Linked DNA regions of Homo sapiens: region 1 is linked to region 2. The links come from fine-mapping of genetic effects on plasma protein levels. Region 2 holds a variant in brackets. A gene starts in the other region. All regions are shown on their reverse strands. Region 1 holds the start of QPCT (glutaminyl-peptide cyclotransferase). Region 2 holds the start of OVOL1-AS1 (OVOL1 antisense RNA 1).

Evidence for each region. PIP is the chance, under the fine-mapping model, that this variant and not a neighbour inherited with it causes the effect. Protein levels are from antibody-based Olink assays in UK Biobank. Linkage for the fine-mapping came from a reference panel and not from the study's own genotypes, which makes the PIPs less certain.
Region 1: QPCT starts here. The variant in region 2 is fine-mapped to the plasma level of the QPCT protein (UK Biobank, PIP above 0.99).

Annotation. Positions count from the first base shown.
Region 1 is chr2:37,340,330-37,345,751 of GRCh38, reverse strand. It overlaps QPCT (glutaminyl-peptide cyclotransferase), which reads right to left and starts at 1,122. Exons shown (of 7, transcript NM_012413.4): 1 at 901-1,122. The coding sequence starts at 1,020. LOC124907754 (a long non-coding RNA gene) reads left to right here and starts at 697. Exons shown (of 2, transcript XR_007086284.1): 1 at 697-2,025; 2 at 5,025-5,422. RefSeq lists a silencer at 692-751.
Region 2 is chr11:65,787,234-65,792,233 of GRCh38, reverse strand. OVOL1 (ovo like transcriptional repressor 1) reads right to left here. Exons shown (of 4, transcript NM_004561.4): 1 at 4,761-5,000. The coding sequence starts at 4,860. It overlaps LOC124902693, which reads left to right. Exons shown (of 7, transcript XM_047427980.1): 6 at 1,150-1,472; 7 at 2,797-3,233. OVOL1-AS1 (OVOL1 antisense RNA 1) reads left to right here and starts at 1,366. Exons shown (of 2, transcript NR_108085.1): 1 at 1,366-1,472; 2 at 2,797-3,233. RefSeq lists enhancers at 217-376, 557-716. The variant T/C (reference allele first, on the strand shown) is at 4,181.

The DNA.
Region 1 (5,422 bases), not on the chromosome of region 2:
CCATTCTCCTGCCTCAGCCTCCCGAGTAGCTGGGATTACAGGTGCGTGCCACCACGCCCGGCTGATTTTTTGTATTTTTTAGTAGAGACAGGGTTTCACCATGTTAGCCCTGATGGTCTCGATCTCCTGACCTCGTGATCCACCCGCCTCGGCCTCCCAAAGTGCTGGGATTACAGGCGTGAGCCACCCCGCCCGGCCGAACCCATACACTTCTTACAGAGGGAACTTGCAAATCACTTTTATCCTAAGTTCCTTATATGCGATTTCTACCTACAACTAGATCCATTTTCTCTGAAAATAGCAGGTACCCTCTTTTAAGTGGAGGAAAAAGGCTTTTGAAGTAAGCAGGTCTCCAGTAAAGGTCCTTCCTGCCGAGTTGCTCCTTTTAAAAATCTAAAACAAACAACACACATCCGTCCTGAGACTGTAGGGACACTTCAGCGCCCCAGCAGCATCCTTGGATGAAGCAGCGGGGGGGCTGTGGGCACACCCCCAGGCGCACCCCGCACCCTAGCGGCCCCGGAGCGCCGGCCCCGTTGCCCTCCAGGGTCCCGAGTGGGGGGTGGCGCCGCGATGCGCCCTCGCCTCCCGGCTCAGCAGCCGCCGGCGAGACACATTTCCTGTGCCTATCAGCACCCCCATCAGACCGCAGCCCAGGAGAGGCCAGTGACATCACCCAGCCCCCCTGGCGTCTCCAGAACAGCCCCGGACTGGCCGAGGCACCCCGGCGAGTATGCAGAGCCCCGACTCCTCCGGGCGCCGGGTGGGGCGCCGGTGCCTGGGCTGGGGACCGTGGCCCTGCCCCGCCTCCCGCTCTGCCTAGGTAGGGCTGACCCGGCCAGGGGTCCTCGCATCGGACCAGAGCCGCTCAAGTACAACTACGCAGAAACAGCCCCTCACCTTCTCCTCTGGCCAGGCTGAGGCACTCGGACTGACCCCCCTGGATGCCCAGGGCAGGGCGGCCACCAGCAGCAGCAGGTGGAGGGTGCCCACGACGCGCCGGTGTCTTCCGCCTGCCATCTCTCCGAGTCTGTCTGGGAGCGGGTTCCCCGGGCCGCTGGCGGTCACGAGCCCGGGAACGCGCGTCCTTCGCCTTCCCTCTTCTCCACCCTTGGGTCGACTGCGCCCGCCTTCCCATCGCCCCCGGGTAGCCTCCCGCCGCGTCGCGCAGGCTGCAGCCCTCCTACCCCGGACCTTCGCAAACCCCGGGGCTGGGCGGCCCTGGGTGACAGACACAAGCTTCTGAACCCAAGCTAACAAAGGCGGCCACTTCCTTCTCTTGGAGAAGATGAAAGGAAGGAAGCAAGAGACATGGAAGAGCCTTTTTATGATCTCCAATGCCAAAACAGGGAACAGAAAAGGGAGGAAGGGTTCACCAGACCCTGGGGAGTTATGAAGTGTTTCCCACAGCTCCTAAAGAAGGGGTGGACAGGGAATCGACGTCTGCTGAACACGGCACCAGGCACCGTCCTAGGTGCTTGTCCAACCTTCCCGGATTTAATCCACTAATCCCATTTTACAGACGGGGAGACTGAGACACCCCCCCACCCCCCATAGAAAGCCTGGACTGGAACCCACAAGCAAAAGTATGACAGTGGATCTTTGCCTTTTCTCTTTTTTCTCACAAATAGTTGCCTTGCCTCACATCATACTCTCAAATTGAAAAGGATGGTCAAAGTAATTATCTGAAATAATGAGATCTACAATATTCACAGCGGCTCTGAAGGAGTCATCTTCTCCAAGGCATGGCCCCAAAAGGAAAAGCCAAACACAATTCTATTTACTTTGTAACATCAAAGGTCATTGTTATCCAGATAATCCTAGGGCAGGAAAACATTTCAGTTTTGTCTGTAGGTTTCTGGTCCAAGTTGTCAGGACAGTGACTTTCACCAGCCTCTTTTGCTTCCACAGTGAGGATCAGGGCTTGGCCTGCTCTGAGTCATCTCCCAGTAACATCTAGTTCCCAGAAAAATCAGAACAAGGATACTGAAGCAGAACCATTTCACAGAGAGCAAAGATTTGAAGGTAAGGAAGCTGCCAGAAGGCCCACCCACTCACTCTGTCTTCCCAGCCTTGGCTATGAGTTTTTAAAGAGAGGGCTTGCCTGGAAATACACTGTTCTGCCCTCCTCTGGAGCTGTAGGAGAAGACAGGATGTAAATAACTCCTTTCCTGGTGTACAGATTTGCTAACCCTATTCATGTCTGAGAGTTTTGAGTGACAATTTAAATCTCCAGGCTTAAATAAAATTAAATACACCTTTATTAAACCCACAGACAGTTCTGATCATCGGACCCCCTTCAGAACTTTCTACTGGCTCCAGTTTCAGAACTAAACCACTGTCACATTCCCCAATACAGCTCCTCTCTTGCTGCCTGGGTCAACCTTGAAATAGTGCATTTCCTGAGTGGCTGGGTAATAAAGAGCCTATTTGCTTTTTTTTACCCTATTACCTTTATGTCTTTTCACAATATGGTTCCTATAAGAAAGAGAACGTGGAAATAGCAAACCTAAATGAAACAAAATGTGAGAGGTACTATCATGCTAAGTATGAGCAATTCAAAACAAGAAATATAGAAATAAGCTAAAATGTCAGCACATAACGTAATGATGATTTTGTTTCCTAAGTTTCTCCAATTTTGGTTATATTTAAGTCAATAAGATGTTCTTACAGTTTGGTATCTACAGGAAGCAGACTCTGAGACAAGAGTTTAACATGCAGGATGTGTATTAGGGAGTGCCCTTGGGACAAACCCCTGTGGGAGGAAGAAGGGGAACAGGAGAGAACAGAGGGAGAAGTTAGCAGCAAAGCGGGCCCAACAACCTCACCCAACTCCATGGGAGTCCTGAAGCTGAAAAAGACGGTCAAAGTTGTCCCATACTGGGCCAAAATGTCTGGGGCCTTATCTCTGCACCTCCATGGAGTGATTTCCTGCAAGCGGCTTTCCAGCCAAAAGAGCTTGACTGCTAGAGGCTGTGGGCCAGCCGGCCTCCAACAGCTGGAGCAGGGTCCTTCCCTGGGGGCAGATCTGGGCAGCGCATCTCCTGTATCCACCACAAACGTATTGTATCTGGTACAAATCTAAAACATTCCACATAGCTAGTGAGACTGATTTCAATACATTGGTTTTTTTTTTACATGTAAGCTTTTCTGCCAACTTTCCAAGAATCTACAAATCCAACACCACTATGTATGTATCACTTCATTCCTTATGCATATCTTTTCTAGTGTCTTACACACTAAATACCCTTTTCCTTTCCTTCGCTCATTCTTTTCTCTCTTCCTTCATTTGGGAAACGTTTAGAAATACCTTATATCTGCTATTTTTGCCCTACTTCAACTTTTCCTTTCTTCAAACTCTTCCCATGGAAGATAACTAATGACTTTTCCATTTTAATTAAAGTTTCAGACCCTGTTTTTCATCATGGAAAAAATGTGTTGTATATACAGTGATAACACTGTTCTCAAGTGGAGAAATTTTTACCTCCATTATAGTATAGATTCCATACTGTGATGTGAAGGAAATGAAGGACCCAATTGCCAAAACAGATCTTCTCCATGAAGCTGCCATGGCAGGATGTTCCTACACCCAGTCCCACCTTTAAAGTGGCGCCATTAGATCAAAGTAGTAATGACCAGAAGGTTCTATTAAAACAATAGTTTTCAAAAGTGTGGTCCATGGATACTGGGGATTCCCCAAGACCCTCTTGGCTGTCTCCAAAGTCAAATCAACTTTTATAATAATACCAAAACAAGATTCATTTTTTCTACTGTATAGACTTTGCACTGATGTTGCAAAAGCAATGATGGGTAAAAATGCTGGCACCTTAGCAACTGTCAATACAGGACACAAAACTGTACTATTGAGGAGGAAAATCTATACTTGTAGTCATTGTGTTTTTCTTTCTTTCTTTCTTTTTGGAAGGAGTTTCACTCTTATTTCCCAGGCTAGAGTGCCATGGTGCCATCTCGGCTCACTACAACCTCTGCCTCCCAGGTTCAAGCGATTCTCCTATCTCAGCCTCCTGAGGAGATGGGATTACAGGCATGCACCACCATACCCTGCTAATTTTTGTATTTTTAGTAGAGACAGGGTTTCACCATGTTGGTCAGACTGGTCTCGAACTCCTGACCTCAGGTGATCTACCTGCCTCGGCCTCCCAAAGTGCTGGGATTGCAGACGTAAGCCACCATACCCAGCCATCTTAGTATTTTTCACTGCCACGCATAAAGAAAAAAAAAAAGAAGAGGACGATAAAAGAAAAGAAAAAGAGCCAGTTTCACTTAAGAATGTCATTGATGAAGTAATAAAATTGTTGTTTTACTGCCTTCTGAAGCTGTCTCTCCATGAAGCTAGATTTTAAATCTAGCAGGACAGAGTACAGGAGGAGAGAGAGCTCCTCACGTCTGCGTTTTCATCTCATGGAGACCACCAGCTCTGTGTGGACTCCTCCTACCTGCACTGCATCCTGGAAACTCTCAAAGCAGTAAGCTGGAGAAAACATCAGGCTCATCTCATTTCATTTTCCCTTTTCTCACCACTTTCCTGTGATACCTCTTTTCCAATATTTAAGCATCATTTTAAAAATTTTTATACACTTAGAGAGTACAGGAGCAGTTTTGGTACATGGATATACTGCATAGTGGACAAGTCTGGGCTTTTAGTGTAAGCATCACCTGAAAACATAGTATACATTTACCCATCAGGTAATTTCTCATCCCTCCTACCCTCCCACCCTTCCAAGTCTCCAATGTCTATTATTCAGCTCTTCATGTCATTGTGTACACATTATTTAGCTTCCACTTATAAGTGAGAACATGTGCTAGTTGAGCTGTTTCACTAAAGATAATGGCCTCCAGTTCCATCCATGTTGTTACAAAAGACAAAATTTTGTTATTTTTAATTGCTGGTAGTATTCCAGGGTGTGTGTGTGTGTGTGCGTGTGTGTGTGTGTGTGTGTGTGTGTGTGTGTGACGTTTTCTTTATCCAATCCATTGTGAATGTCATTTTTAATATATTTTAGGTGGGATGACAAATCCAGTTCCATCTTAACTGGAAGCACAAATTGAGAGTATGCAGCTCTTTATACTCACATGGGAAAATAAGACGTAGAAATCAAACACTTCTGCTGCACACCAAAGGGCAATTGTCTCAAAGAAAAGCATTTGTACCGTTGTTTCAGAAGTATAGTGGGCCGCAGTGGCTCACATCTGTAATCCCAACATTTTGGGAGGACAAAGCAGGTGGATCACTTGAGGTTAGGAGTTCAAGACCAGCCTGGCCAACAGGATAAAACCCCCATCTCTACTAAAAATACAAAAATTAGCTGGGAATGGTGGCAGGTGCCTGTAGTCACAGCTACTCCAGAGACTGAGGAAGGAGAATCACTTGAACCTGGGAAACAGAGTTTGCAGTGAGCAG
Region 2 (5,000 bases):
AGAGGGGAGGCTCATGGTTAGGGTCCTGAGATCCATGCATTTGGGAGGAGACCTGTGTCCTTTGCCCACCTCTGCTGTTCCACACAAACCTGGCTGAGCTGGTGCTGGGAGACCGGGGCCAGGGAGTGGGCCTGCCTGCTTTGGCTCTCTGGTCCACCTCCACCCTGAGCGAGGGGCAGAGGAGGCTGGATGGGCGGCCACCCGCTGCCAGGGTGGGGATGTTTGCCTCATCCCACCCACCCTGCCAAACCTGTCTCCCTGCCACCCCCATGAGCGTGTCCCTTCTGCGGCCACACGCACAGGGAGTGCACACTGGCGTGCCACCTGGCACTGAGTGTCGCTGAGTGGCAGGAGGCAGGAAGCAGAACTGGTTGGGCCCTGCTTGTGGTGCTCTCTGTCCCTAATTAGATGTTTCCGGCAAGGCGGTGGCGCTATGACTACTCATCACCCGCCCACAGCTGTGGAGTATGGCAAGGCCAAACTAGCTTGGCCCTCTTCCTACTGCCTGGGGGCTTATGGGTCCCCTCCTGCTGGCCCTACTTGCCTCTACCTGGACAATGTTGAGGGCCAGGCTCAGAGCAGAGGCACGGACACCGAGGGACTGTGTCCAGGGCAGCTGCCCATCGAGGCCTGTCTCCTGCCTTGGCCTCTGTAAGTCCTCCATCTCTTGGATGGAAAGCTGCTGGCCCAGATGTTGGGGAAAGTGCCGGGTCCCCCCATCCAAGGCCTCAGGACAGGGCTGGGCATGAGGCCTGTCCCTGGCTCTCTGGGGAGAGTAAGTGAAGCAGATGCAAGGATGACCCCCTCCTGGGCCCCACTGACCACATGGGTGCTGCCCCAGAACATGGGGGTCAGCCCAGTTCTGAAGGTGAGACGGGGGCCCAGCATGTCAGCACAGTGCAGCTGGTTCTCAGCAGCCTTGCACCCTTATCAGGAAGGGCTGGTGCCCCCCGTGCCCATCTCCTCTGGTCCCCATAGGTCAGCTAGCAATCATCCAAAAGGACCCAGCACCAGCCAGAGGCAGGCCGGCCCGGTAACGCATGGGCCAGTCTCTTGGCCTTCTGTTTCCACGCTGTGAACTGCCACAGGTCGCCTCAGACAGTGTATTTTCCCTCTTTCCCAACCGCTTTTCACTGGGTATCCACAAAGAAGTTAAAACTGTGCCTCGGCCCTCGCGCCAGGGTGCCCGCCCAGAACAGTGGGAGCAGTGCTTCCTGTTGCAGCCCCCACCCAGCCAGGCACAGGCCCAGTGCCTCTGTGGGACTCCATCCAGGACTTGTTGAAATGGCCGATGATACAAAGGAGCCCCGACTTCACCCATGGCCAGCTTCCCTCGCCATCCTCCCTGCAGCCAAAGGACTCGCCCTCACCTGTTCTTTCTGAGACAAATCATCTGCCAGGTTTCCGCCTCGGGACACCCAAGCTCAGCACAGACAGCCTAGCAGCCTGGGTGACAGGATCCCAGGGGACAGGTAGGAGTCTCATCTAGCTGGCTGCCCAGGCCCATGCTGCTCTTCTGTCTCTGTCCACTGTGTGGCTGTCCACTCTCCCAGCCCCGCTCCCTGGCAAGCACAGCAAACATCTCCTTCGCTGCCAAACACGGCCCAGGAATGACTACAGGGTAACCATCCCATCAGAGGCCGGAGCTCTCACTATCCTCACTCCCGACACATCCTTGGGCCCCAAAGCTCACTCTCAGCTTTCCTGACCAGCTGGAAAGAGATCTGCCCAAGTGCCCACACTACCTAGTGGTAGAGCCAGGCTGGACCACATTCCTTGAAGGAAGCTCCAGTGTCCCACCGCCCAGCCTGCTGGCCTCCCTGAGCTCGAGTGTCCACCAGGCGAGTGGCAGAGCAGACTGTGGCCAGCCCAGTGACAGAGGGGAGGCTGGGAAGCAGTGGTGGGAGGCCTGGGAGAGGCCCTGGGATGCTCCTTGACTCCAGCTTCCAGCCTCAGTCTGTCCTCAGGTCCTTTCCTGGCCTGGAGATTTCACTCAGCATGGGGTGGGGCTCGGGGGAACCAGCTTCAACCCTGTTCCTGGAGCCCTTCCCTGGTGGGTCCAGGAGGTAGAATTTACCCCCTGGGTACAGGTGCCTAGGTTTATCCTCAAGGAACCAGCATTACTCCCTGTCACTCCAAGTCAATATTGACATAACAAAGGAAGGCGAGGGGAGGGTGGTTGGGGGGGTGGGTGGGGGAGCGGTTCAAGGTGGCTTCCTAGCCAGTAATCCTTTCAAATCTCCAGGGTGCTTGCAACCATCTTCACCTCTTCCCAGGGGAAAGATTCTGCCCCGGGAGTAAGAAGCTCTAGAATTCTGCCTTGGGGAGAGAGGCTGATGGGATTGTCAAACTGGGGCCCTGGAATCAGTGCTGTCGGGCTGGGGACCAGTGTCTCTGGCCTGTAAAACCTTCTCCCAAAACCTTCTGGGAGGCTTTGAGGGTCTCAGAGGAACCTGGCAGGAAGGTCAGAACTCAAACACTCCCACATTCCTGGGCCCTCCACTGGAAATGGGGTCAACGCTTAGCTGGTCACAACTTACCAGGAATCTGTGAGGTGAACGGAAACGTGCCCAGCTGGCTCTGGGGTCATGGTTGGCTGGTGATGGAATGGCCCAGCCAGGGGACAGGCCAGCACAAAACGCACCCCCACTCTCCAGCCATCTGAGGCACCCGAGCGTGGACTGAGGACAGTCCCTTTCTCATTGCCAAAAACTGTGGGAAAACTCTCCAGTGGGCCACATGACTTTCAGAGGTAAAATTAAGTTCTCTATCTTCTACCCTTTACTTGACCCACAGGATTCTCTCCTTGCCATGGGGATGAGGACAAATTCTCCCTTCATCCTTGAGATTGGACTCCCGCCACACATCCTGGAGGAGCCTACAGAGAAGCCGGCAGGTCTCCCTCACCTGGATGGTGCCAGCGGGTGGCCTGGACCACCCAGAGGCCCTCTCCTGCACCTGACAGGAAGCCCCTGGGGCATACGTCTCCCCTGCCACTTCCACTGTGGCCACTGGAAGTGTGGCAGAGAAAATAGCTAGGACAAAAAGAAGTCAATGATTTCAACCAACGGAATTTCTTTGTCCTTTGTAAAAATCAACACATGATCTGTTACTGATTGGGATGTGAAATAAAACTAAAAATAACAGCACACTGAGCCTGGCTCAGGGCTCAGCTCACCTTTACCACGGTCCAAGTTCAGTTTATCAGATCCCAAGGAGCAGCTAAGCAGCAAGTCAAACACAGGTGAGGGTGGAGGGCGGAGGGCGGAGCGGGGAGGGGGCTCTGGCCCTCTGCGTGCCCCCACCAACCCCCAGGTAGAGAACCAGCCAGCTCACCAGGGAGTGTGGCCAAGCAAGAAGCTATACACAGAATTCTGAGCCCACACCCTAATCTGCCTCAGGTGGGGAGGCCACTCACTTCCCTTTTTGCCTCAGTTTCCCCACTGGGGTTACCAGGGTCTTCTGGCACATTCCCTTGTTTTAAGGAACGGTGGAAGAGGGGTCCCCTTGAGATCAGGTTAAGCTGTGAAACATCCTGCCAGCGCCACAGGCCACTGGGTCCTGGAAGGTCAGGCCACAAAGACCTCACCAGGACACTGTCTCCAACAGCTTATTCAGGAGGGAAACTGAGCAAGAGCCCTCACGGGGCCCCTCACTGCTGCCCTCATTTCCCCACTTTCCTACAAGGCCTGGGGCGGTGCCAGGGAGTCTGCAGATCAAGGGTCAAAGTCAGTTGGTTAATTACTCCTCCCCTCCCCCCTCGGAGGGGCTGGGCTGGGCGTTCAGAGCGTCCACGCCCCGCCCCCAAGGCCTGGGGAGGGGGCGTTCGGAAGGAAGCAGGCTTTCTCCAGACCAAAGACTTTGTTGGGGGTGGGGGAGGACAGAAGGGGTAGGAGTGTTCTTGGGGCGTTCAGGGGAAGATGCCGCTGGAGGAAGAAGCAACTCTCACAGTCGACGCTGTCTAGGCGTCTGCCAAAAATAACTGGGTACACCAGCTTCCCCGGGCCTGGCCCTCCGCTGTGGGGTGGGCTCCCTGCAGCTGCTTTCCATGCAATTGTGCCCTCCGCAAGGTGAAGGAAGTGCGTTTCTAGCAGAGGTGAGACCCGATCCCACCTCTGCTTTAAGGGCAAGCGGGGCGCAGCGGGCGCCTGTCCCACCGTCTCGGCTCACTGCGCGGGAC[T/C]AGCAGCCGGAGCCCAACGAAAATTTGGGGGCCCACGCCCCCCACCGGCCCGACCCTCACTCCGACCCGGCCACCAGTGTTGTGGGGGAGGAGGAAGGACCTGTGCGAGCGGCTGAAGCTCTGAGCTTTTAACACAAATCTCGGCCGAAACTCCAGCCCGCTCCCCGCCCCCCAAAGTGGCATCGCTCCAGTGCCTTCTCCCGCCTCATGCGAGTCCCGGTTTTCTGGATTTACGACGTCGGAGCCGAGGGTCGCCTGAGCGGTGACACACCCCGCTGCCTCCTCTGTGCCGCGGTTCAGGGGGTGGGGGTAGGCGGTTCCGCGCCCCCTGGCCCTGGGAGCGGCTCCCCTTCCACCATGCAGCCCCCGCCCCGACCAGCGCTCTTCCGCCGGCCCCGCCCCCGCCCCCCGAGTCCCGGGTCGAGAGCCGCGGGCCCACCCAGCCCAGGCCGCGGCCGCATTCAGCCCCGGCGCCCACACCGCGCCTGCCGCCTGGCTCCGCGGACCTGCGCCCGCCCGCCCGCCCGCAGCCTCGACGCCGCCGCGGGTGCCCCAGGCCGGAGGGCGGTTGGAGCCTCACCTGGCACGTAGATCTCGCCGCGCTCCTCGTCGGGGAGCTCGCTCCAGTTCCTCTTGCACGTGGAGACGCACGGCTTCTTCACCAGGAACGCGCGGGGCATTTTCGAACCCTCGTCGCTGGACACGGGCCGCTTCCGTAACTGAAGCCGGGAGCCGTCCCACCTTTGCGGGGCCGGGCTGAACGCCGGGAACGGGGGCACAACAGGGAAGGAGTCGCTAAGGCGCCCCCACGTTCCGGGGA